Regions from separate parts of the Homo sapiens genome. Here all the other regions are linked to region 1. The links come from fine-mapping of genetic effects on gene expression. A gene starts in region 1. Each other region holds a variant in brackets. All regions are shown on one strand. Distances are from middle to middle.

What was found. PIP is the estimated chance that this variant, and not a neighbour inherited with it, causes the effect.
Region 2: its variant is fine-mapped to the expression of PTGER4 in whole blood (TOPMed, PIP above 0.99).
Region 3: its variant is fine-mapped to the expression of PTGER4 in whole blood (INTERVAL, PIP above 0.99).
Region 4: its variant is fine-mapped to the expression of PTGER4 in whole blood (TOPMed, PIP above 0.99).
Region 5: its variant is fine-mapped to the expression of PTGER4 in whole blood (INTERVAL, PIP above 0.99).

Annotation. Positions count from the first base shown.
Region 1 is chr5:40,676,804-40,681,894 of GRCh38, forward strand. PTGER4 (prostaglandin E receptor 4) reads left to right here and starts at 3,112. Exons shown (of 3, transcript NM_000958.3): 1 at 3,112-3,675; 2 at 4,148-5,057. The coding sequence starts at 4,191. RefSeq lists a silencer at 2,775-2,994 and an enhancer at 4,130-4,657.
Region 2 is chr5:40,407,339-40,412,445 of GRCh38, forward strand. No RefSeq gene overlaps it. Among named protein-coding and RNA genes, the nearest start is that of LINC00604, 170 kb to the left of the region's middle. The variant G/A (reference allele first, on the strand shown) is at 2,475.
Region 3 is chr5:40,754,645-40,759,751 of GRCh38, forward strand. TTC33 (tetratricopeptide repeat domain 33) reads right to left here and starts at 1,317. Exons shown (of 5, transcript NM_012382.3): 1 at 1,180-1,317. PRKAA1 (protein kinase AMP-activated catalytic subunit alpha 1) reads right to left here. Exons shown (of 9, transcript NM_006251.6): 9 at 4,745-5,107. RefSeq lists an enhancer at 1,191-1,340. The variant C/CA (reference allele first, on the strand shown) is at 2,571.
Region 4 is chr5:40,396,321-40,401,427 of GRCh38, forward strand. No RefSeq gene overlaps it. Among named protein-coding and RNA genes, the nearest start is that of LINC00604, 160 kb to the left of the region's middle. The variant T/C (reference allele first, on the strand shown) is at 2,477.
Region 5 is chr5:40,304,952-40,310,058 of GRCh38, forward strand. It overlaps LOC105374736 (a long non-coding RNA gene), which reads right to left. Exons shown (of 4, transcript XR_001742649.2): 3 at 4,033-4,121; 4 at 1,822-3,674. Among named protein-coding and RNA genes, the nearest start is that of LINC00604, 67 kb to the left of the region's middle. The variant A/C (reference allele first, on the strand shown) is at 3,095.

The sequences.
Region 1 (5,091 bases):
CCAGCCTCCACAGCAGTAATTTATCACCACATGAAGATGTTGGGGAGTTAATCACAGCACTGACATGTGTCAGCTCCAGGCATTGGGCTCAGCATAAACTTCATGCTTAGAAAATGAAAATAATTAAGAGGGCACACATTTGAAATGTACCACTAAAAAGGGAAGGCAGTCATCTTAGGGTCAGGTGAATGCCATGTTTGTAATCCACTAAACCAACTGGAAGAGCCTGTGGAGGGCAAATGTGTCCAAGGGTACTTTGCTATTTGTACCTGATAGATGCCTTTCACACTGTTTTGAGTCTCTGCATGGCCTGTCATGAAAGAGAAAAGCAAACACAATTTGCACAGGCTTTGCTACATGAATATTAGTGCTTCAGGAATGCTCTAAGATCCTGCCAGCTGCGGCTCAGGAAGGGGTCCAGGCCAGATCTGACTCATCCTGCTGCCTTCCTCCTGGAAATGATCCCCTTTCTCACCCCACTCCTGCTGGCTGAGCCCAGGTCCTGTCTGTCCCATATTTCCTTTGATCCAAGGAAAACTAAAAGTGGTTACTAGCTCCCAAGCGGCCTTTGTTTATAAATGGGTTCCCACCTTAATATGTTTACTCAAAAAACTCGTCAAATAATTAGCTATAACAGAGCAATCAAACTGATCAAACAGTTCTTGGAGTAGTTCAAACCTTCAGAGAGTTATTTAATGACAGTTTTAAATAACTGAACTGGGGTCTTCCAGCATAGAGAAGTAGGGATTGTGGCAGAAACTGCGAGGGAGAATTTTTAAAGTGCTTAGAATAAAAATCTTTTCATTGAAAAAAAATGACAAGAATTGCCCACATAATTATGGCAATTTTTCCTTTCCTTTTGCAATGCAAATTCCTGGCAGAGTGTAAGAGAAACTGAGCTCCACTGTCCCAGTTTTTCAAACTAAGAAAATAAAATAATTTGCTACCTAAACTTTCAACTTCTACTTTTGAAAGCTAAATTTAAGTTTTAAGAATCGTACAACAAAAGAGACTACAGATAAACCTCATTACAATTTTTTAGTATTGAGCATTAGGTTATTTATTTTCCTTCTTCCTAAAGCTACTGTAGAAAGAAAATTCAAAGGACTAGTAAGAAAAATAGCTCAATTGATAACAAGTCTGGTTTGTCAATGACATGCTAATACCTGTAACAGTTACTAATTATCTCAGCAGTGTGTCTCAGTTTTTATATTTAATATATTCTTCATCATTCTTAAATTAATAAATAGCAACCAATTGTTTTCTCTTTTACAAGCTTCATATGGAAAGAAAATTGAAAAAAAAAATTTGTATTAGCAGAAAGTGAATATAAGGGACTTCCCAACCTCCCCTCCATATATTTACTGACAAGCAACTGACATGAGTGATAGCAAAGCAATGTGGTTAGTGAGGAATGGCGCAGAGTGTGCAGTTTCCTTTTTTCTAATGTTGATTTGTTTTCTGTGCTGACACAATCCTAGAGGTTACTGTTCAAAGGAAGCATCGACAACAGAAGTGATTAGAGTACTGATTAAAAGAAGATTTTTAAGAAAATGACCAATCACCATCAATCTTAATATTGGCTAACAAATGTGTATTTTTCTTTCTCATATTATTAAGTAAATAGTATAAACAGAATAATTCTTTATTAGTATATCCATATAGTGCCTTTTGCAAGTAAATATGATTCTGGATATTTTATGACCTGTAATTACTTGAAATCGGAAAGCCCTTTTAGTTTCTCTTATTACCCATGTGTTGCTGAGACTAACTGAAGAACCAGTTAGGAGGTTTGTTCGTTCACGAAATAACATTTAAGAAATGGGTACCTGCTTATCACATAAAAGAATCCAGTTATTTACTTACCCTGTGAGGAGACATAATATGTTAGAATGCTTGTACACTGCAGATGGGAAGAGGTTTTTCCAGGAATTTAAATTGTGCAATAAGGCCACACAATCTTACTTAAAAAAAATGGTGAAGGGGTTTTAATTACACCATGAAGTTTTACAATTTTTTAGGTTTTTAGTTCTGGTTTTAGAAAACAGAGTAGAAGGATTACAGAGAAAAACTTCACCATTAGACAAGAAGTCAAAATGATTCTAAGGGCCGCGCAAACAGGCTTTTCCAAGAATTAATCATGAGGTGGTGCTTGGAGAATTCCTTTACTCCAGTGACTTTGAAACCCCCTTCTCACTCTCCACTAGTCTTTCAAAGGATTCATGGTGAATTGGGTCTAACGAGTATAACACGGCCGGCCGAAGGCATGAAGCTCACGCTACCCTTTCAGGGCGGAGAAGTTCCCAGGAGGAAGAATGGAGAAAAAGATCGCAGTTAGGCAGTCCTCCCAACCTCACCAAGGCTCCACCTCTCTCCAAAGCCGCAAGGCTCTGCCACCTGCGCCGGGAGAGGCTGCAATCACTGTCTCCTCCTCTTTCTTTCTCTTTTTTTTTTTTCTTTTTTGCCTGGGGTGCCCGACCAAGCGCAGCCCGCAGTCTGGGCACTGCCAACTGACTCCAACTCCTTTTATGGTGAGAGGATGGATTCTTCGTTATTTCCCCGCCCAATCTGGTACCCACCCACCCACCCACCTACCACGTCCGCTGGGCGCACCCAAGTCTAACCCCGGGGCGCACGCGCTAGCGCAGACACCGTATTTCTTCTCCTTTCTCGGCCAACCCTAGGTAGAATCCTAAAACAACTGCCCTCTCTTCCACGATCTAGATGTTGCGGCCCGCGGACAGGAGGTTCAAGAAATAGTACACTCCGAGCGGCAGGCAGCGAGGCGGAAACGGTCGCCGGTTTCAGTGGTGGCCCCACTGGAAGCCGAGTTCAGGAGCGGCTAAGCGGTCGCCGGGGAAAGCACCGGGGCTTCCCAGGGTCCCCTCCGAGTTCCCACTCCGCACCTCCGAGGGCGTGAAAACCACGGGAGCCGCCCCACCCCGCGCGCCCAGCCCCGCCCCAGCCCAGACACCGCCCCCCGCCAGTCTTCCCTGCGGCGCCCAGGGAGGACGCGCTCCGCCCCCTTCCAATCCGGCCAATGGGCGCCCGGGCAGCGCGCGGTTTGCCTCCGCCTCCGCCAGGGAAACTTGGAGGAGGAGAAAAGTTTGTACAGAGGGTGGAAAGGCGAGAGCGGAGCTCCAAGCCCGGCAGCCCGAGAGGAAGATGAACAGCCCCAGGCCAGAGCCTCTGGCAGAGTGGACCCCGAGCCGCCCCCAGGTAGCCAGGAGCGGCCTCAGCGGCAGCCGCAAACTCCAGTAGCCGCCCGTGCTGCCCGTGGCTGGGGCGGAGGGCAGCCAGAGCTGGGGACCAAGGCTCCGCGCCACCTGCGCGCACAGCCTCACACCTGAACGCTGTCCTCCCGCAGACGAGACCGGCGGGCACTGCAAAGCTGGGACTCGTCTTTGAAGGAAAAAAAATAGCGAGTAAGAAATCCAGCACCATTCTTCACTGACCCATCCCGCTGCACCTCTTGTTTCCCAAGTTTTTGAAAGCTGGCAACTCTGACCTCGGTGTCCAAAAATCGACAGCCACTGAGACCGGCTTTGAGAAGCCGAAGATTTGGCAGTTTCCAGACTGAGCAGGACAAGGTGAAAGCAGGTTGGAGGCGGGTCCAGGACATCTGAGGGCTGACCCTGGGGGCTCGTGAGGCTGCCACCGCTGCTGCCGCTACAGGTGAGATGGCGTTGGGCTGACGTTGGGGTCAACGGGTAGAGAACGCAGGGATGCGGCCCTCGCCGAAGAGAGCCAAGAAGGGAAGAGCGCGCTCTCCAAATTGCTTTTGTAACTTGTTTTCAGTGAGCATTTTATTGATTCAGAATCTATCGAGAATAGCACTAGCGAGCTACTTTTCCCTTGAGATGGGTCTTATTCATCTTGGCAATGGAGTGAGTTGGATTGTGGGGAGGAAGAGGAATGGGAAAATCAGTTTATAAATATTAATGTCAGCAAGAGTGTGCTGTTGGCAGGACGTATCGCGAGCCTGGAGATTTTGGTGGCCGCAGTTGGTAAGTGGCTACAATCCAGAAAGTAGGATCGAGTTGCTCCCCTTGTCTTATCAGTGTATCGTTTCTCGGGCGCGGGTCTAACACCTTACAAGTGGTAATTTCCGCTCACGGCAGCTTTGTCTCTCTTCTACCATCCCCAGACCCAGCCTTGCACTCCAAGGCTGCGCACCGCCAGCCACTATCATGTCCACTCCCGGGGTCAATTCGTCCGCCTCCTTGAGCCCCGACCGGCTGAACAGCCCAGTGACCATCCCGGCGGTGATGTTCATCTTCGGGGTGGTGGGCAACCTGGTGGCCATCGTGGTGCTGTGCAAGTCGCGCAAGGAGCAGAAGGAGACGACCTTCTACACGCTGGTATGTGGGCTGGCTGTCACCGACCTGTTGGGCACTTTGTTGGTGAGCCCGGTGACCATCGCCACGTACATGAAGGGCCAATGGCCCGGGGGCCAGCCGCTGTGCGAGTACAGCACCTTCATTCTGCTCTTCTTCAGCCTGTCCGGCCTCAGCATCATCTGCGCCATGAGTGTCGAGCGCTACCTGGCCATCAACCATGCCTATTTCTACAGCCACTACGTGGACAAGCGATTGGCGGGCCTCACGCTCTTTGCAGTCTATGCGTCCAACGTGCTCTTTTGCGCGCTGCCCAACATGGGTCTCGGTAGCTCGCGGCTGCAGTACCCAGACACCTGGTGCTTCATCGACTGGACCACCAACGTGACGGCGCACGCCGCCTACTCCTACATGTACGCGGGCTTCAGCTCCTTCCTCATTCTCGCCACCGTCCTCTGCAACGTGCTTGTGTGCGGCGCGCTGCTCCGCATGCACCGCCAGTTCATGCGCCGCACCTCGCTGGGCACCGAGCAGCACCACGCGGCCGCGGCCGCCTCGGTTGCCTCCCGGGGCCACCCCGCTGCCTCCCCAGCCTTGCCGCGCCTCAGCGACTTTCGGCGCCGCCGGAGCTTCCGCCGCATCGCGGGCGCCGAGATCCAGATGGTCATCTTACTCATTGCCACCTCCCTGGTGGTGCTCATCTGCTCCATCCCGCTCGTGGTGAGTGACCGGGGCTGGGGCCCTACTCGGCCTT
Region 2 (5,107 bases), 270 kb before region 1:
GAAGGAGTGCCCCAGATGATGAAGAAATATTATAGTGTTTGGAACACCTTACCTGTCCATAAAATGTTGATGTATTTAAATATCTATATCCTGTGTGCTTATCATTTGTGTTCTTCTTGTGTGTTACAAGTGACTAGATTTTCTCCAAAAAATTCTATAAACCAGGCCCTAAACTGACATTATCTTAGCTTGTGTTTTCTTTAGCTATTTCTACACAGTGAAAGACAGGGCTGATTCTTCTTTCCAATGAATGAAAAAAATAAATTAGGCCAGGTGTGGTGGCTCACACCTGTAATCCCAGCAGTTTGGGAGGCTAAGAAGGGCAGACTGTTTGAGCCCAGGAGTTCAAAACCAGCCTGGGCAACAGGGTGGAACCCCACTCTACAAAAAATAGAAAAATTAGTTGAGCATGGTGGCAGGTACCTGTAGTCCCAGCTACTCGGGAGACTGAGGTGGGAGGATCACTTGAGCCCAGGAGGCCAAGGCTGCAGTGAGCCATGATTGTACCACTGTACTCTGGCCTAGGTGACAGAGTGAGACCTTGCCTCAAAGAAAAAAAAAAGTATATCTTCCAAATGATATTATGTAAGATGTCCTTAAGTATAGTATATAGGAATGTAGTTTAGAACTTCTCTCCCGGAGAGCTGGGGTTCAGGGTGGGCCTGCAGGCCTCCTAGCTTCTCTTTTAAGTATTTTAGGAGGTGAAGTAGACTGTTTTGGGGAAGAATCACTTTCTGAAAAAGGTACCCAGTGTCCTTTGGCTATTCCCTCATAACCCTGCCCAGTCTGAGCTGGTCCTCTCTTTGTCTAGACACCTGACAATTCCAGGGCTCAGAAATGAGAACATAAAAGACAGTTTAAGAAAGATAATATGTTAGAAGGACAAAGGAGGCTGTCCTACATAACGGAAATAAGTGAAGTTAAAAATCAAACTAGAAGCGCCCTATGGCAGATTAAAGATGGCCACAAATTCTTTAACACTCTTCCTTTTGAGAGATGGGGTCTATTTCCCCTCCTTTTGAATCTGAGCTTGCTTGTAACTGCTTTGATGCATGCAGTGTGGCCGAAATGACACTCTGCCCTCTGGGCGTTAACTCTAAGAGAACTGGCAGTCTCCACCTTGGTCTCTGGGAGCTTTGAGCCGCCACAGCTCTGACTGCCTTGCTCAAGAGATCATACGGAGAGGCCCTGAGACTATATGGAGAAGGGGCCAGCTGAGCCCCCTTTCCCACCATCCCCATCAAGGCAGCAGGCACAGAACCCTCCAGAGCAGCCTGGGCACCGGCTGAATACTTCTCCAGTAATGCCAGTGAAACCGTGTGGAGCAGAAGAATCCCCAGCTAAGCCCTGCCTGAATTCCTAATCCACAAAAGTATGTCATATAAATAAATAATTTATTAAAATGGTTATTATTTTAAATCACTGGGTTTGGGGTAACTTGCATGCAGTAATAGATAACCAGTACACAGCCTCTGAGTAGAGTACATAATTTTTAGAATAAAATCTCCAATTGTGGAAAGTGTGATAAATTCCAAATTTTTGTGGTCAGTTAAAAAGAAGATTACATTCTAGGTGTGTATGTTCCACAACATGTATACAGAGAAGAGAAAAGCTAAGGAGAAAAGACATGAATCTCTTGCCTGCTGGCAAAGCTTCCCCAAACAGATATTCTTCCAAAGGCTGCATAGAAGCTGGATCATTGTAAATCTCTCCAACAAATATCTACTGAGTAACTGCTACAAGTACATCACTGTGTTAACCACTAAGGTTTTAATAATGATAAAAATATAATTTCTGCCCTGGGAAATTTTTCTCTCTTGTGTACCATTAGCAAATTAATATGTAAATTTTAAAATTGGTTTAAATCAGAGGTTGACAAACTTTTTCTGTAAAGAGCCAGAGAGTGAATGTTTCAGCTTTGTAGGCCAACTCTGCCAGTGTAGTGCAAAAACAACATTTTAGACAATACATAAACAAATGAAAGCAATGGAATCCCAATAAAACTTTATTTGTGGATGCCAAAATTGGAATTTCACATGATTTTCATGTGTCTTGAAATATTATTCTTCTTTTAATTGTTTTCAACAATTTGAAAATATAAAATTGGTCTTTAATACACAGGCTGTACAAGAGGCAGTGGGCTGAATTTGATCCTCAGGTATAGTTTGCCAACCTCTTTTTAAAATTCTTATCAGATGGGCCTAAAGCAGGTAGAACTTGCAAAAAGTTAAAGAGCATTATCAGACGAATTTAATGTTCTGGATTGTCATGGATACAAATAACCTGCCTTCTATTTCCAGTATTCTCCATGCATAAGGAAGGGCATGAACTTATAGCCTGCAAGAGCAGCTTAGAGTTTTACCAGGGAGGAGCTCTGGGAAGCATCAAGACCCCAGAGGAGGGGAGGACTCAGCCCAAGGAAGGAGAGAAGGAACCATAGAGATGAGTGGGAGGGCACGTCTGCAAAGGCAGCC[G/A]GATGTTGTGCAAACATTCAGCAAGAAGCACTCAAAGAGCGAAAGTGGGACTTCATGGAGAAAGAACAGTGTGACAATATTTTTTAAAAATTTTCCCCCTTTGTAAATTCCTAGTGCCTTCGAGTAAAGCTGTTCATGGAGCATATTTAAGACATCTAGAGCCAAGTAAATTGGAAGCACAGAAATGAATACAGAAGAAAATTTAGGACATCCTTTTTATTGAAAGGAGTTCATCAGGTTGCCACCTACCCTTCCTTTAAATTTTGCTATTCCACTTTATGCTGAAATAAGCTCATTTTGGCAAAAGACTTGCTAAAGACTTGATGCTTTGTATATTAATGTTTTGTATTTGCTTTGTTTTTATATAAAGAGCCTTCAAAAACTATTGTAAAAATTAAAAATATATGCAATAGATCTCCACAGTAACAGTGCACAAACATGCACCCTGCCCCACACCATCCGCCAAGTACGATTATATGATTGCTTAAATGAGCTAACTCAGAAGAAAAAGGAAGTCTGAGACACACACATTTCTACGCTTTGTATTCAGAGATGATGTGTCTCCTGGTGTATATTCCCCCTGCATCCTTCTCATGCTTTCAACGTCATGAAGGTATAAAAGTGTACTCCCTATCACCAGGGTAGCAGCCGTGACCTACATTTTCTTCATGTTCTGATGCTGTTTGTGGCTTCCTCTTCCCTTCAGGCAGCGCATGATGTCTTTGTTCAAAGCACTCTTTCCAATAGCTGATGACTTAGTGTCAGGCAAGTCCACAGCTGTTTCAATCATTCTGTCCACACAGACACCAAACAACAGGAATTAGGTATGCATGGAAACCAACCTAAGATAAGAGTAGTCTGCTCTGGGGAAAAAATAGAAAGTCATTTCACGATATACAGGCAACATTTTGTGTGATTTATTTGACATCAACTGGATGACTAATCGCTGTGGATTTCTTTTCACTCAGATCACATGATTCTTCTCTAGGGTCTCAATCAACTATTTCCATTTTGCTTAACGTAAAAAAATCAGAAGCCTCCAACAGTCAACAGTACCATTTTTAAAGTAAATTTTGTACACCTCCCCCACTCCCCAATCATGCCCTTTTTAATTACTGCTTTCGCTCTCATTAAAAGAATATAAGTTTAAAATTTCGAATGTGGATGTCAAGTTTTGCTGTTATCTTTAGTGTTGTTTTCTATATGAATGAGCCTAGCTTTCACACTATGGACACAGCCTGTTTAGACAAGAGCAGTGCTTATGTAATCATAGCTTCCCAAACCACAGCAACAGCACAAATTTGGCAGCTAGAAGGAAGGAAGTGAGGGTGGGGAAGGGAAAAGGAAAGAAAGGGAGTTTCTGTTTCAATCAAAGATATATTTGGCTCATATTTCCACCTCTTTTAACTGAGATTCCAACTCTACAGGAGGTCCTCTCCACTCATCCCTCCATGCCTGACCTGAGGAGCAGCTTGGCTTTTCCCTCGCTAAGGGAAAAACCTTTAGTACCTTCCTTCTCTACAAACATTAGAAACAGCTTAATCAAGTTGTCCTCAGGCAACAAGGATACTTCAGGCTTTCCAGGTATGACACAGCCTCTTCCCCTCCTATCTGCTAGCCAGCTAACAGCTCTTCCACTACTAGTGCTCTGCCAGTGTGCGTGACTGCCAAAGGCATCTCACTGGCCAAGTGGAAGGAAGCTTTCCTTCCAAGTCAAACATCCAGTCTTCAATGAATAAGCCCTATGTGCTGAAACATGCCTCTTTTCCCCAGTCACCTTACTCTTTAGGAAACTGTGGTAGGCAAGTAAAGACTCCCCAAAATACTTATATTCATATCCTACTCCCTGGAACCTATGAATATGTTGGGTTACATGGAAAAAGGGAACCAAGATGGAATTGAGGTTTCTAATAAGCTGACTTTAGAATAGAGAGATCATCCTCCATTATCTGAGTGGGCACAACATAATCACAAGGGTTCTTAAAAGTGGAAGAGAAAGACAGAAGAGAAGATCAAAGTGATACCATGTGAACAGAACTCAACCAGCCATTGCTGGCTTTGAAGATGGAGAAAGGGGACCATGAGGAAAGGAATGTGGGCAGCCTCTAAAAGTTGGAAAAAGCAAAGAAGAGGATTCTCCCCTAGAGCTTCCAGAAATGTACACAGCCCTGCTGATGCTTTGAGTTTAGCCCAGTAAGACCTGTATCAGACTTCCTACCTGCAGAACTGTAAGACTATAAATTTGTGTTGCTTTAGCTACTAAGTTTGTGGTAATTGTTATAGTAGCAATTAAAAACTAATACAAAAACCATTGGTTCAAGGCAAGTCCATACTGCTTGGGAAGCCACCTTCCATTTATCAAAGACTCTCCATTGAGGCCCAGGTGCACAGCTCATTCCATCTGGGCATGTGGTTCCAAGTCTCTCCATTGTACCCTGGAGATTGACACCAGACCACATCTGCACTGCCATTGCTTACATTTTTCTTTCATGTTGGTCTTCCCTAGAAATTTAAAGAATTACAGATCAAGAAAAGCTGGATGCAGTGTTGCACACCTGCAGTCCCAGCTACTTGGGACTTGGGAGGCTGAGGTGGGAGGATTGTTTGAGCCCGAGAATTTGAGTCCAGCCTAG
Region 3 (5,107 bases), 78 kb after region 1:
GGAAACCACAGAGTACAGTCAATTTCATACACGATATGTGCTACAAGAGAGTAAACAAAGGATGCCATGACATCAGAGAAGAGACACTTGAGGCTTTCTGGAGGACTTAAGCTTTGAAGAAAACTTAGCCAGGCTTAAAAAGGTATGTGAATCCTAGAGCATGCAAAGCACTTTCTGCATTAGAAAATTTAACATTCCCAGTTGTTTCAGATATCTTAAGCCGAACGAGTTTATTGTTCCTCTATGACTATCTGAACATGAAATTAAAACTTCTTATGAAGGAGGCTTTCCTGAGTCTAGTTAGAAGCACGAGGCTTCAACATCCTAGACTTAACATTTTTTTACCAGAGTAAGAAACCATGAGAGTAAACCACAATCCACACCGGTTTCATGTTAAACTCATGAAACCAGACAAATTCAACCTTTTATATAGGATTATATTTCAGGAATGGCATAACGATTCTAAACAACGACGCTGTATTCTAAATTCCTGTACTGTTACAAAGATCCCTATAGTAGGCGCTCAACAACTGGCGACGGCTTCACATTTACCCAGCCGCCAGAGAGGGCTTGTCTTGAGTGTGTCTGAGGATGCAGCACCCAAAGGGAAAAACCACTACATGAACAAGATCAGGAAATCACAACAGCATCCTTCTGGGTAAAAGGAGGTATTCAGAGGTGAGGAATCCAAGAAACGATTTACCCAAAAACGCCACCGCAAGAGAAAAACCAGTATTAGTGACTTTCCCTTCATCGGTCAACAATAATAAAAACGCTCAGAAAGGCTGCCCCGGACGTCACCTGCGCGTTCACGGACCGCCCCGGGCCGCAGACACCTCTCCAGCGGGGAGCGGCCGGCTCGTCCCGCCCGTCCCACCGCTCAGGGAAGGTTGCGGCCGCGCAGCTCCGCGAAGGTGCCACGGCGGGCCCGACCCTCAGACTCGCTTGTCCCTGGAGACCAACCCTAGCGACCAGGCTCTGCCGGATCCCGTCGGGTTTCAACTCCTATTCCGAAGGTCCTTTCTCCCCTAATCACAACACCCACTCGCCTCTTTTTCCTCCTCTTCCTCAGCTTCCACCGCCGACCGGGCAGCCCCAGTTACCCGATAACGGCTCCCAAGGCCCCGTGTTTACATTCTTTCCCACTGGAAGCAGAAATTATCACGCCCAAATTCCTACCTGCCTTCCCTGGATTCCTGGTTTCCTAAGAAACGGGTTTGGCCCACCCCTGGGCGTTCGAACAGTCCACAGAAGCGGGCAAAGGAAAGACGACTCAGTCTTTCCCCTCCGCCAATCTCTTCTCCGGGACCACAAATCCCAGAAGTCACCGCGGCCGCCCCCACTGCATGACCTTCTGGGATTTGTAGTAGTCAGGGCCACGCGGCTGGGCGCGCCCTCTAGCAGCAGCCCTGAGTGACCGCAGCGCACGAGCGCGGGAAAATGAGGCTGCGCGGGCTGAAGAGCGCACCGAGAGGAGCCGCCCCCGCGGTACCGCGCAGCCTCGCGTCCCGTCAGTGGGGAACAAGGTGAGGGGAAAACTTATTTTACGGGATTCAAAGGATTAGGATATGCTCCTTCCCCGAAGGGGTTTATAGCCTAGCTGATGAGGTCGGCCAGACGCAGAGAACAGAGAGGCAAAATTCGGTTATAAAGGGCTCGAGGCGGCCGGGCGGGGAGGCTAGTCAGGGAGGCTCGAGGCTGAACTGCAGGCTTCACGTTAAAGTTACAAGTGAGTTGGACCCAGAAGGCAGAATTACAGCCAGAACGTAGCTGTGCATCATGTCTTGAAAATAAACGAGCACATGTAATAAAGGTAATCAAGATTGTTAATTTCTCCAACTCTCCTGCCCAAAAGACTCATTTTTGGAAGTCATACTTTCTCAGCCTCAGCACCATTAACATTTCAAACTGGATAATGCTTTGTTGGGGGACGGGGTGTTCTGTGCATTGTAGGGTGCTTAGCAGCATCTCTGGTCTCTGTCCACGGGATGTCACCACCAGTCGATTGTGACAGCCAATGGTTTCCCCAGTGAAATTTCCCCTGGAAGAAAAACTATCCCTCCCACCCTGCCCCGTTGAGAACCACTGATGTCGACCAACGATTGTCCTGAGGGTCAATGACACCCTTTCAAAGCCAAAATTATTTTCATACTAATATGAAGACGTGATTTGCCCTTTGCACAATGCTGACATTTGCACTGATGGTGGAAAAGCAATGGTAGGTCAAGGTGCTGGCCCCTCCACAGGAATTACAGTAATGACACCAAACCGTACTGGAGCTCTTCACCACCACACGCTCACAGTAAGAAAAATGGGCCGGGCGCGGTGGTTCACGCCTGTAATCTTAGCACTTTGGGAGGTCAGGAGTTCGAGACCAGCCTGGCCAACATGGCGAAACCCCATCTCTACCAAAAATACAAAAATTAGCCAGGCCTGGCGGCACGCACCTGAATCCCAACTACTCGGGAGGCTGGGGTGGGAGGATCCCTTGAGCCTGGGAGGTCGAGGCTGCAGTGAGCCGAGGTCATGCCACTGCATTCCAGCCTGGATGACAGAGCAAGGCACGGTCT[C/CA]AAAAAAAAAAAAAAAAATGGAAAAATGAACGCTGTCACCAGAGAATATCCCTGATGAAGTTGTAAAAGTTACTTTATTATAACCACTCCGACACTTAATATTCTTTGTAAAAACTTGGAAGTCCTCACAAAGTACTTCTGCTGCATATTGAAGTATGACGTATCAAAGAAGAGCTACTGTGAGATGGCATTATAAACTGAAGTAAATACTTTTTTTTCCTGGAACACAAATTTTACTAAGATGAGTGACAAACCGGTTATTCGGACTTGGGTATTTGACAAACCTTTCTTGAAAATGAACAAAGGGAATCTGTAACTTCAAGAAAAACAAGGAAAGGGAAAGGGGAAGGGGAAAGGAAAGGAAAAAAGAGAAATAGGGAGGGAGGGAGGAAAGAAAAAAAAATTGAGTTTGTTGCCAATGATAAAATTCAAGATTTTAGGCAAAAAAAAAATATGATTTTGGAAAAATGGTATTCACCATAATGATCTTGGCAGCTTCCCAGTATCTCCAGAATTTTCTGATATAAGTGATTATCAGTTGTGACTTTTATTTACATTGTTTGCTTAAATACATCAATATTTGTGCAGGCTGCATAAGTGAACCAGTAGTATTTGAAAACGATCAATGCATGACTGCGGTAGCCAGCCTCCAAGATGGCATTCACTCCTGGCATTCACATCCTTATGCACTGCCTTCCTATATTGTACCACGGTTGGTCTGTGTTACCTACAGAAGAGGGCAGAAGTGACCGTTTATCACTTCCGATATTAATTATGAAAGACACTAAGATGGTGGCAATGTTTCTTAATCTGCCTAGAGGTTTACATGGTCATGTTTCCTGTGTACCTGAAATACTGAAAACTCATTAAGCCAAATACTCATTTGTGCACTTTTCTGTATATATGTCTATGAAAGTCTTAAATAAGAAAACATGTACCTCCCTAACAAGACATGCAGAGGGAAGATTTATCTTATGGTCACATTCATAGTGTCATTAGTTCATAGTAGCCAATAAGAAGGAATAGAGGTTGCAGAGTGAGTAAATGGTACTTGAAGCTGTGCCCCCTACCTAGGGGTCTTTGCTAAATCTCTCAAGTAACCTAACCCTGATCTCCTCTACTGTGTTTAAGGGTAGCTCCCACTAAGTTTTTATACTTCACCCACTACTTCTCTACTAACTCTGACTGGTCTATGATCTTGATTCACCTAATATATTTAATATATGTCTTATGCTGTCTTTTTAAGACAACATGATCATTTTCCAAAATCCTTTAAATTTATCATAATTTATTGGCATTTACAGTAAATAGTTTATTTACAATAAATAAAAGAGTTCAAAAATTCTGATTTTTCAAACAAGAATTTCTTGGACAATTCTTGTACAGCCAAGGTAAATACCTACAGCAATTTATACATTCCCTAAAAAAACCTTATATACTACTCATAGCACTCTTTAGCAGTTTTCTTTTGTTGTTTTAAAGATAACAGAGTGTCAACAATCTAGCACAAGCCCCTGCCTAATCATGTCATATGGATACAATATTTAATATTAATTGAATTCTAACAGTAGTAGGATTCTAACCAAATCAAGTGTTAGCAACTGATAAATGGCAGTTGCTTTGGCTTTTATTGTATCTATCATGTTTTATTCAAGTGGTTGGTTTTTAGATGAAATCAAGACTCATGTAGTCGAGATAAAAATCACAATGTTTGACAATTTAAATGTGGCCAGGCACTATATTTTATATTTCTAGGTACTTTTTTTGTTGTTGTTTTGGTGGGGTTTTTTTTGAGACAGAGTCTCACTCTTTTGCCCAGACTGGTAGTTCAGTGGCATGTTCTCGGCTCATTGCAACCTCCACCTCCCAGGCTCAAGCGATTCTCGTGCCTCAGCATCCCGAGTAGGTGGGACTACAGGTGCCCGCCACCACGCCCAGCTAATTTTTGTGTTTTTAGTAGAGACGGGGTTTCACCATGTTGGCAGGCTGGTCTTGAACTCCTGACCTCAGGTGATCCACCCACCTCAGCCTCCCACAGGGCTAGGATTACAGGTGTGAGCCACCGCACCTAGCCGGTACATTGTTAGAAAGAAAGGTGCACAGATACTTAGTTTTTTTTTTTTCCACTGAGTTTTCCCAGAGGTTAAAAAACATAAGTACATTGTAACAGATGATAAATGGAGTTTTTCTTTATTATATCATATTTCTAAATCAAGGAAGCTGAAATTATATACTTAAATATACTCTGGTCAAAATATACATGAACCACAAATATTAACTTCTACCTACCAACAATTTACAGTTATGTTGTATGTGGAATTTCATTCTTGTCAGAACTCACAATGGAAATAAAATTTCTATTATGGGTGAGAAGATGAGGGAAAGAATTAAGGGGAAAAAATTTGGACAGCACACACTTTTCTTTCATTCCAAAGGTGCCAGTCAGAACACAGATCCATGGAGTTCCACATCTAGCCCCAGGCTACCAAGCATTAATTCAATGTAAATGGTGTCACTACAACATCAAAAAGAGCAGT
Region 4 (5,107 bases), 280 kb before region 1:
GAGTGAAAACACACTGGGATTGATTCAAAGTGCTTCCTAGTATCCATAACTTATCCATAACCAAGGGTGACCAAAGAAGGGGACTGGAGCCATGGCTCTACCACTACCTATCCCTTATTTGGCATGATCCTCTTATGTACCCAGGTCTGAATGTACATAAAGATATGGTGTAAACAGTGTTTGTTTTGATTGTCCCCTTGGTGACTTGATGTTCTCAAGTCATGGGCTTTGGAGTCACACTAACAGAAGTTCATATTCTAGTTATGCCACTAACTGGTTCTGCGATCTTTAATAAGTTATTTAACCTCTTCAAGTCTCAGTTCCTTTATCTAGAAGGTGAGAATAATAAATCAAGCCCATAAGGTATGGTGACAATAAAGAAAGTATGTAAAACACAGGCATAACATAAGCACCCAATGAAAACAAATTTTTCATTGTTTTTGCTGTTGCTTTTGCTGCTATGGTAATCATTGGCATTATTATCATTATACCAATTGATGTTAAGTTTCTTAAACCCCAGTGAGTTCAGGAATTTCAAGGCAAGGACTACTGCCCCAGCCCATTCCTCTTTTTCTCTTTCATATTTAGGAAATCCCTACATCCTTCTAACTTAGATGAGTGATTTCATAGAAAAATGTTATCATCTTGGTCACTAACCAAGCCACCACCACCAATTTTATGAATATCTTTAAAAGAATGCCCTCCATGACTTAATTTGAAGCCCTAATCCTCATGATGGAAATTTTGGCATTTCAGCAGATTTGCGGTCCTAGAATTTGGAGGTTAGGAGGATCTTTCAGTGGTCCTCCATTCACATTAGCTTGTAAGATGTCACCTAAGAGTAAGAAGAATCAGCTCTTCTAGCATCTTAGTGCTGGGTGAAGAGAGGATAAAGACAATTGAGACAGAGAATTTGGCTAGTGACAACACGTGATTACAAATTTCCACTTTCAATCCCCCTTTCATCCTTCCACCCTTGACACTTGCCAGAGAAATTGCATACTTCCCACAGCCTGAAAAGCCATGTTCCTCTTCCCTCCCTAGGGAAATCTTACCCATTCTTCAAAGATGAACTCAAAAGTAGTTTTCTGTGAAGCCTTCCCTGCTAAACCCAAGTTGAGGGTAATCGCTCACAGAACTTTAGAACTGGACAAAATCTCTGTATTTTTATAGTTAGGGTCCATGTTTTGGAGGTATGATTAAAGAGATTTTAGTAGGAAAAAGGACTGACTGATTCCAGCTGTTGGTATTCTATTTGGAATTATGATTGTTATTTTTAATGCTTTTAAATTGCACTAGATTCTAAGTTGTTGGGGTGGAATCCCTGTTGTACTCAATATTGTCTGTCCATAGCATCTAAAACAGTGCATGAACCGTAGTTCATACTTAATAAATACCAGTTGAATGAATTAACCCTATATTATTAACCAAGCAGGTTTAATAGACACTATTTGCTGCTTCTTATCAATGTCAGCTTAATTGTTCCTCCTGAGTATCCATGGATATCTACCAGCCACATTGATCATGTTAAAGGTCATGAGGAGCAGTTTTACAAAAATCATGTATTACTTAAGTTTTTTTGGTTTTCTTACTATTATTCACTCCAACACAAGAATTTTAAAAAATTGAAATAGAATAATAATAAAAATCAACACGAGTAGTGCTATCTAAACCAAGTGATTTGGTGTACATTTTCTCATTTAATCTTCAGAGCAACTTGTAGTTAACATAATTATTCCCAGTCTACAGAAGGTTAAGCTGAGGATGCTTTGCTCATAATCACATGGCCAAGCAGAGACCATGTTTCTCAGCGCCAACCACATGTCTTTCTTACTTCATTGTTAGATTCACTGTGACTAGGGAGTACATAATCTCTCAAACCCATCCACACTCATTGAAGTCTATGGAAAACAAACTGGAGACAAAAACACCCATAGGCAACAATGAGTTGACTCTTTCTGTGGTTAGTTTTTCTCTGTATTTTTTCAAATCTATTCATTCTTCCTGACTACAGCATCATTTGCCATAGTCTTCTCCTAAGTCAATGTCATACTTCCTCTCAACCACTTGAGAGATTGCAGATCTTTGTCATTCAACATCATTTAATTTCCTGAATAAAGAAACAAAAAAAATGGAAGAGGTTTAGGTATACATCTAGAGTTGATTTTAATTTCCTGTTTGCCCTTGTAATTATGGTTTTTCTTCTTTGCTTTTGAAAACTATAATGAGTGTTTGAAGTATTACAATTACTTTCGATTGCAAAAACTGCAATTACTTTTGCACCGGCCTAATATATGTTCTATGTGGTCTTTCTCATCTTTAAAAGAGCAAGCAATTGATTATAACACAATGGTGTCAACAGCCATTGGATATCTACCAATTATCCAATAGGACAATTTATCTAATGAATTACCTTTTAGGTTACCTATATGCTTAAATTTGGTTACAACACACTTTTACACTGGTATATGTAAGA[T/C]AGAAGAACATACAGCTCAAATCTCGAGTTCTCTTGCTGCCAATATTGATGGAGTTTATGAAAAATTAAAATGATGAAGCATACTTCAGGTGTTCATTTCCAAATGCAATGCATTTTCTATTTTTTCCATTTTAAAAATAATATGCACCCATTGTAAAAAGAAACTTCATCATTATCATCGTTAAATAAACAGAGGCAATTTCCTTCATAACCTCTTCTGTTCCACCTTCACCTCCAAGTCAACTCCCACTCCAGTGGTATTATGTTAATAATTTGTGTGTTTGCGTGTTTGTGTGTGTGTGTGTGTGTGTATACACGTGTTTCCAGGAAGAGACAGAAAAAATGCAGATATATAGAAAGCATGATACACATTTTTAATTTGATTATCTTTGCTTACTAATATATCATAAACGTCTCTCTTACCAGTATAATACAAATTGACCTCATGCTTTTTAATAGCTTCATAGTGTTTTATGGAATGCTTATACTACAAATTTGCTAAATCATTCCCCTACTAGTGATATTTTGACATACATTGACAGATATTTTTAATTTTTTTTATTGTGTGACAATCCACAGAGGACATCTTCATGTTTACATCTTTGTGCTCATTTGGGCATTACTACTAAAGAAAGTCTTAGACAAAGAATTCCTGATTCAAAGTGTATGCATTTTTAAAATGCAAGTCATGAGCTTTAGAGTCACACTGACAGTTCATATTACTTTCTTACTTCATAAGCCTGTTCAATTACCCTCCAAAGGGCTATGAAAATTTCTGCTTTCCACACAATGTATGAGTCGCCTTATTTCTTTACACCCTCACAGTGTGGATATCATCAACTGGCTTCACTTGAATTCCCCTGAAAGCAGGTCCTGAGACAAAAATGTGAAGGCAATACAGATGGTCACTGACTTCCAATGATTCCACTTATACTTTTTCAACTTTACAATGGTGCACAAACTATAGACATTCAGTAGAAAACAGTGTGATTCTCTCACATGATGCTGGGCCATGCAGTAAGCTGCAGCTCTCACTCAGCCACACAAAGGTAAAAATACCAGTACTGTACAGTACATTGTGTTGCCAGATGATTTTGCCCAACTATAGGCCAATGTAAGTGTTCCAAGCATGTTTAAGGTGGGCTAAGCTAAAGTATGATGTTTGGTAGGTTAGGTATATTAAATGCATTTTTGACTTAGTCATATTTTCAACTTACAATGGTTTATCAGGACATAACCCCATTGTAAATGGGGGAGCATCTGTAGTTTATTTTGAAGTTAATTCCAGGAATCACTATGAGGTTGCAAGGAGTAAGACAAGAAGTGGGGAACAAATAGACAGAACATTGACTAGCCAGTTACCTCTATTCGTAGTGTGGTCAACTATCACAGTTTGCATGGAATCAATGGGGTGTCCCAGGACACAGAATTTCCAATGCTAAAATTGGGACAGTTCTAGAAAAGCAGAGATAAGTTGGTTACCCTACTGTATGGGCAATTGGGCTCAATTATTCTGGAGACCCATGGAAAGGCCATATGGAACACAACTTAGGATTGTTCCAACAAAAGGCAAAGATGTGAAGTATTTATTCACCAGCCCTTAGTAGTTTGGAGGTACTCCAAGGCATTCTGGCTCAGTTACTTCCCATCTGACCTGTGCAGGGACAAAGCATGCTCCTGTGTCCAAAGATAGCCCACTGGAGGAAAGGTGCAGGAATTTGTTGTCATGTCTGAGAAATGTCTGCAGACAAACTCTGGGATCGGCCAAAAGGATGTGGGGGTGGGAGTGCCAATACCATCTATGCATGATTATTTGTCCCTAGTCTGATCAGCAAAATGATGCTATCTCAATATTGTTCTCATTTACATTCTCTAATGAGTGGGAATTTTGGACATAACTTCATATTTGCATCCCTTTTTGAGACTCAAGTTTTCAAGCATTTAAATACAGTTTTAGGGTAGGTTATTTTCTTGGCCTGGGACAACCAACTTCCATAATAGAAAAAAAATTTCAATCAGTTTACCTAAAATATGTGTGTATTGGAATGGAATGGGATGGGATAGGGGAGCAGGGTAAACTCTTCCAGGTGAATTAAAGGTGAGAATTAATGATTTAATTATAGTATTTTCAAGGCCACAATCCTTGTTAGACTTTCCTTTACCTTATTTTTAAAAAACTGTACATATGTATGGGGTAAGTATATACATATGTGTCATTATACATATTTATCATGTACATATTATCATATATTGTATACATATACATATCATTATATATTGTACAGTTTTATGTACAGTTTTTTAAAAAGGTACGTATGTATGGGGTACAATGTATAGTGATCAAGTCAGGGTAGTTAGTATATCCATCACCTCAAATACTTATCATTTCTTTGTGTTGGGAATATTTCAAGTCTTCTCCTCCAGGTATTTTGAAATATACAATAAATTATTGTTAACTATAGTCACCCTACAGTGCTGAAGCGGAATTGAGCTCCTTAAGTTTTGTACATCATGTTTTTTTAGGTTCCCACTGAGCTGATTTTTGGCCATGATTCACACATATCTCTCCTCCAAGGCTCCTCTCACAAAGCATTTCCTCCCAGTCACGTTTTCAAATAGCTTCTCATTCCC
Region 5 (5,107 bases), 370 kb before region 1:
AGCACTTATTCCAGCTTGGAATAATTATCTATTTGCAAAATAATGTAATTAATGAGAGCCTCGCTCTCTGAAAAGTAAACTCTATACACGCAGGAACCACTATTATTTTGTTCAAAATTTTATCCTTAGTGCATAGGCTTTCATGTGACTCTCCATGATGCTTGATTAATTCTTATTGGTTGAATACATGAATTAATGCCAAAAGGGAAGCAGGAATAATTGGAAATGTGTTTTATGTAGATTGGCTTTAAGAGGCCTATAGGAGATTCAAGGGAAGATGCTTAGCAGGTGGTTGAAAACAAAAGCACTCACTTTAGAGTCAAACTGTCAGGGTTTAAAACCCAGCTTAGTTGTTTATTATCTGCATGACTCTAGGAGAATTGTGTGATATCACTCAACTTTAGTTTTTTCTCCTGCAAAATGAAGATGATGATGGCATCTACCTCACAGGTGGTTGTAAGAATTAAATGAGATTATGCGTGTTCACTTGTTAACCCAGTGCCCAGCACATAGTAAGTATACAATGAATGTTGCCATTATTGTTGTTATCACTTTGTGGGTTTTTTTTTTTTTTTTTGAGTTGGAGTCTTACTCTGTTGCCCAGGCTGGAGCACAGTGGCATGATCTCAGCTCACTGCGACCTCTGCCTTCCAGGTTCAAGCAATCCTCCTGCTTCAGCCTCCCAAGTAGGTGGGACTACAGGTGCAAGCCATCACACCCAGCTAATTTTTGTATTTTTAGTAGAAACGGGGTTTCATCATGTTGGCCAGGCTGGTCTCAAACTCCTGACCTCAGGTGATCCGCCCACCTCGGCCTCCCAAAGTGCTGGGATTACAGGCATGAGCCACCATGCCCAGCTTGTTGTTGTTATCACTTTGGACCACAAGAAAATGTTGGAACCCAATACAGGTTTCCAAATCATTCAAGATGGTTGAAGTGATGAGAGTGGTTGAGATGGCCTAGAGAGAGAACACAGAGCAACAAAAGGCCAAAAGAGAGACCTTGAGTAAATGCCAAAAGAATGAAAAGGGATAGGAAAAAAATACAAAGTATTGATAAGATGATTAGAAAAAGGCTAGGGAAGTTTGACATTAACAAACAAGATTTTATTCTTTTCTATTCATTTATTAATTTAAAATAAACCCATTCTTTAGGTTTTAAGTCTTAAAATGTCTGGGAGGCAATATCACTACACAGAGCCAAAGAGCATTTATTGTATTCTGTAGAAATTATCTGTTTTGGCTTGAAACCACTCTTACCAGGTTCAAGATTCTTTTCTCTTCATTATATCAGAGAATAGCTTCCTTGGTACTTAGTTGATCTAAAAATGACACATTTATGGAGGAAAGAAATGGGTGAGTTTTTCACTAAATGGGGTAATGCCCTACATAAACCCCAGGATCTTTTTTTTATCAAGGAATTTTCTGCAGAAAATCAAATGATTTTGAGTGGATGACATTTTTTTATGAATTGAATAACAGCAACAAGAAGCAGCCTGCTAAGTTTGTTTCTTATCTGATTCAATGGATTGTATTTTCATTCCTAATTGCTCTTTATTAGCTCTGACATTTCTAGGTTTCGGGAAAACAAAAAAAATGCGTATTTACTTATGGTATTGTCTACTTTTCTCCTAAGGAAAATAAATGATGGTTCAAAAGCAATCCCTGAGAAATTCATCTCCAAGGGTAGATATCCTACCAAGTGACCATGCCCTCTGTAACCACGGCATATTGGGGATCATCTGGAAATTAAGAACACACACAAAAAAGATTCCTTACATTGCTTGCTTCCAGCTGGTAAACAAACAATTAAGCCTCAGAATCAGAACACATATTCTTTAATTAGATAGGAAAATAACAGTTGGATTATGTTATGACATTTGCTATTAATAAATAACAGTTCTCATAATTTTACAAAGAGTGGATATGACAATTCTAATTATTTTACCACATTGAAAGCGCTGTATCAGAGTCCCATGGGTAGCCAGTCATCTATTTATCATGAATAATTCAGAGAACTATGGCTATAATTCTGATTCAATGCTGATTGAAAATTTAGAGTTGTTAGACAAGATTTCTACAGACTGTTCTCTTGAGTGCTATTTCTGGAATTTGTATCTTTGCATATGCAAATTCTAGAAAGAATGTAAGCAATGAGATGGTTTTGCATTCATTAGTAAAGAACTTTCAGTTTTATCAGAGTCCACATCAACAAATACAACCTGTGTGGAACAGGACATGAAGATCATGTTCAGTTAATATTTGCTGTGCTAATTTTAAAAAATTATCATTATGAACATCTATACAATACCATCTGTCTAATAATATTATACACAGTGGGGGAAAATTCCCTTTTGGACCTTGCCAGTATTTTATAGAGCAACGGCAAGAGTCACAGTTGTTCTGGAAAATATTTCCAAGTCATAGTGACCAGAATTACAAGCTTTGGTTTGGAAGTTGCAACTACTATTTCTCTAAGTTTTCATTTACTTCTCTTTTTTTTTTTTTTTTTTTTGAGACATGGTCTTCCTCTGTCACCCAGGCTGGAGTGCAGTAGGATGATTATGGCTCACTTCAGCCTCAACATCTGGAGCTCAAGTGATCCTCCCACCTCAGCCTCCTGTGTAGCTGAGACTACAGGTGCGCATCACCACACTTGGTTAATTTTTTACTTTTTGTAGAGACAGGGTCTAGCTATGTTGCCACGCTAGTCTCAAACTCCTGGACCCAAGCGATCCTACTGCCTCAGCCTTCCAAAGTGCTGGGAGTACAAGGCATTAGCCACAGCACCCAGCTCTCATTTACTTCAATTACAGATCACTTTATTATCTAAATCACTTTTATCTATTATAGTCTCATATATAATCTGGAATAATTTACAAGTGTCAAACACCACATTTCAGTATTCAGCATGCAAGTCTATTTCATGACCAATTACTTAAATAAATAAACAAAGAAAGAAAGAAAGAAATGGATATAAATAATAATGAAGTGCATGGAATGATAGACAAGAGTTTACCTCCAAAGTTACAATAACCTGTTTGGACATATCCTGTGCAAATCCCTTTCCACTCAGACACATTCTGAGAGGCACT[A/C]AGTGAATTCAGAGAGGATAGAGAATGAAAAAAATTACTCATTTCAGAATTTGCTTATCTTTGACACAATCAACATATCTGATAGCCTGTTACAGACAAGGTACTAAAGGCAAGGCTGAGAGCATGGTCTCTGCCTTCCAGAGGCCCAGAGTCTAGACCAGTTAAATTCATGGAACTATACTCTCCAAATAAATCTACAGTTTACATGGTCTTTTATTTCACCAGCAGGCAAATTTTTGTCCCTGGGCAGCTTCCTAGAACTATTTATAGCCTGAGAACCAATTTATTTCTTCTTAGTAGATTTCTGTTCTCCTTTGAAATCTCAGCAGTACAAACCTGATTAGCAGGGAGGCCAGGTCCAAGTATTAATGAGATAATTATGATTGTTTTCTTATACCAGGCAACCAGCGACTTCTGGCGAGGACCAGTAGGATGAAAAGCAGGAGGTCAAGGGTAAAATGCTGGTTTCCAGAATTACTTGGGCTCTTTTATATCTTCCTTGAAGAAGCAAAATCCAATCATGAAGATCACAAAGACAATAGCACACAGCAGTGGGATGAAGAGCAATGAGTACAGAGCCCTGAGAAGGAAAAAGGACTTGTTAGAAGTTTGTCTGTGGCCTGGCATCCAAGGTTTATGAAACTTTTTTATGCATACACCCTGGCAAATATCTTCTATAACTACAGTGTGTTTAAAAAGAATTTTTTTCCTCACTGGGCATGTTGAGAGGTCACAAAATTCATCATGCTACCACTCAGAAATACATAGAAAATTTAATTTCTTAATTTTCTTTAAATATCTTTCACTTAAGCCCAAGACATTGGTTAGTGGAAGAAAGAGACAAAATGTTCCATTTAGTTTAATGTTTATTGAATCCATTAATTTATATACCTTTCCCTAAAATTGTGAGTGGATGGCACAAGAAGTGAATAGCTTACCTTTCCCTGTGGTGTGAGTCCTCAGGAATGTTCTGGTGCCTATAAGTACCCAGCACCATGCCCTTTGTTCCCCTAGGCAGTAGGCAGTGCTAGAGTTAGCATAAGAAAAAGGCAAAATTGAATGGCTATGGAGAAGTGTTCCAGATAAAGGCAGGCCAAATGAAAGGGCAAGAAGGCAAATGGCAACATGACATATTCAGGGCAACTGCAGATGATTCAATAGAAATGGATGGTAGAAGCTTATATGAGAATGTCAGAATAAATCTGGAAGTGCAAGCAAGGCCTGGAGCCAACGTTTTATCCTGTACATACATGACAGGTATGTATTTTGAACATATCACTCAATGTCTACCCCCAGGCCCCTGTAAACTTGTCTTTACATAATTATCATTTAAAGTTTTTGACTGTCACCAAGGGCTAAGGTAAAAAAATCAAAATAAAAACACTGAACGTGTAATCTGTAAGAATTTTTAGTAAAAAGAAAAAAGGCTTTGAGTAGATAATTTTGTGTGCTTGACTACATTTATAGATATGGTTACCAACCTGCAGGTTGAGGTTCATAATATTATTCAATGCTGTCATAATACATAAAGACATCATAATATATTCACCTCTAATCAAAGGACCAGGAAAAGGTTTGGGTTTTGTTTAATGAGCTAAAATAGGTACATCTTGTAGTTAGACAATAAGAACTACATCATCATCTAGTTTCCCTCTTGCCTGGGCTACTGAGAATCTGAGTATTAAGTTTAAGTTTAATGATGATACTATTCTTAGTCTGAGATTTGTTTTATTTTTGCTTCTCTTCTAGATGTCTGTCCTTCCCAACATTATTACTTTAACTTTTATTCTATGTTACTTGTCTCATCCATGTGCTCTCTATGAGCCATTTTAGACTTCCTCAAAAACTAGCGATTCCTGTGCTACTAGAGATCATAGAATCCTGCCCACTTACTAAGGGGCTTCTTGAGTTCTCAAGCTATATAAATATTTTGGCGGGATCATTTTTTTTCCTCAAAAGCAACATCAAATCTCCAGCTGCTGGGAAATGGTGCTTTTTCCCTATTATTGGAAT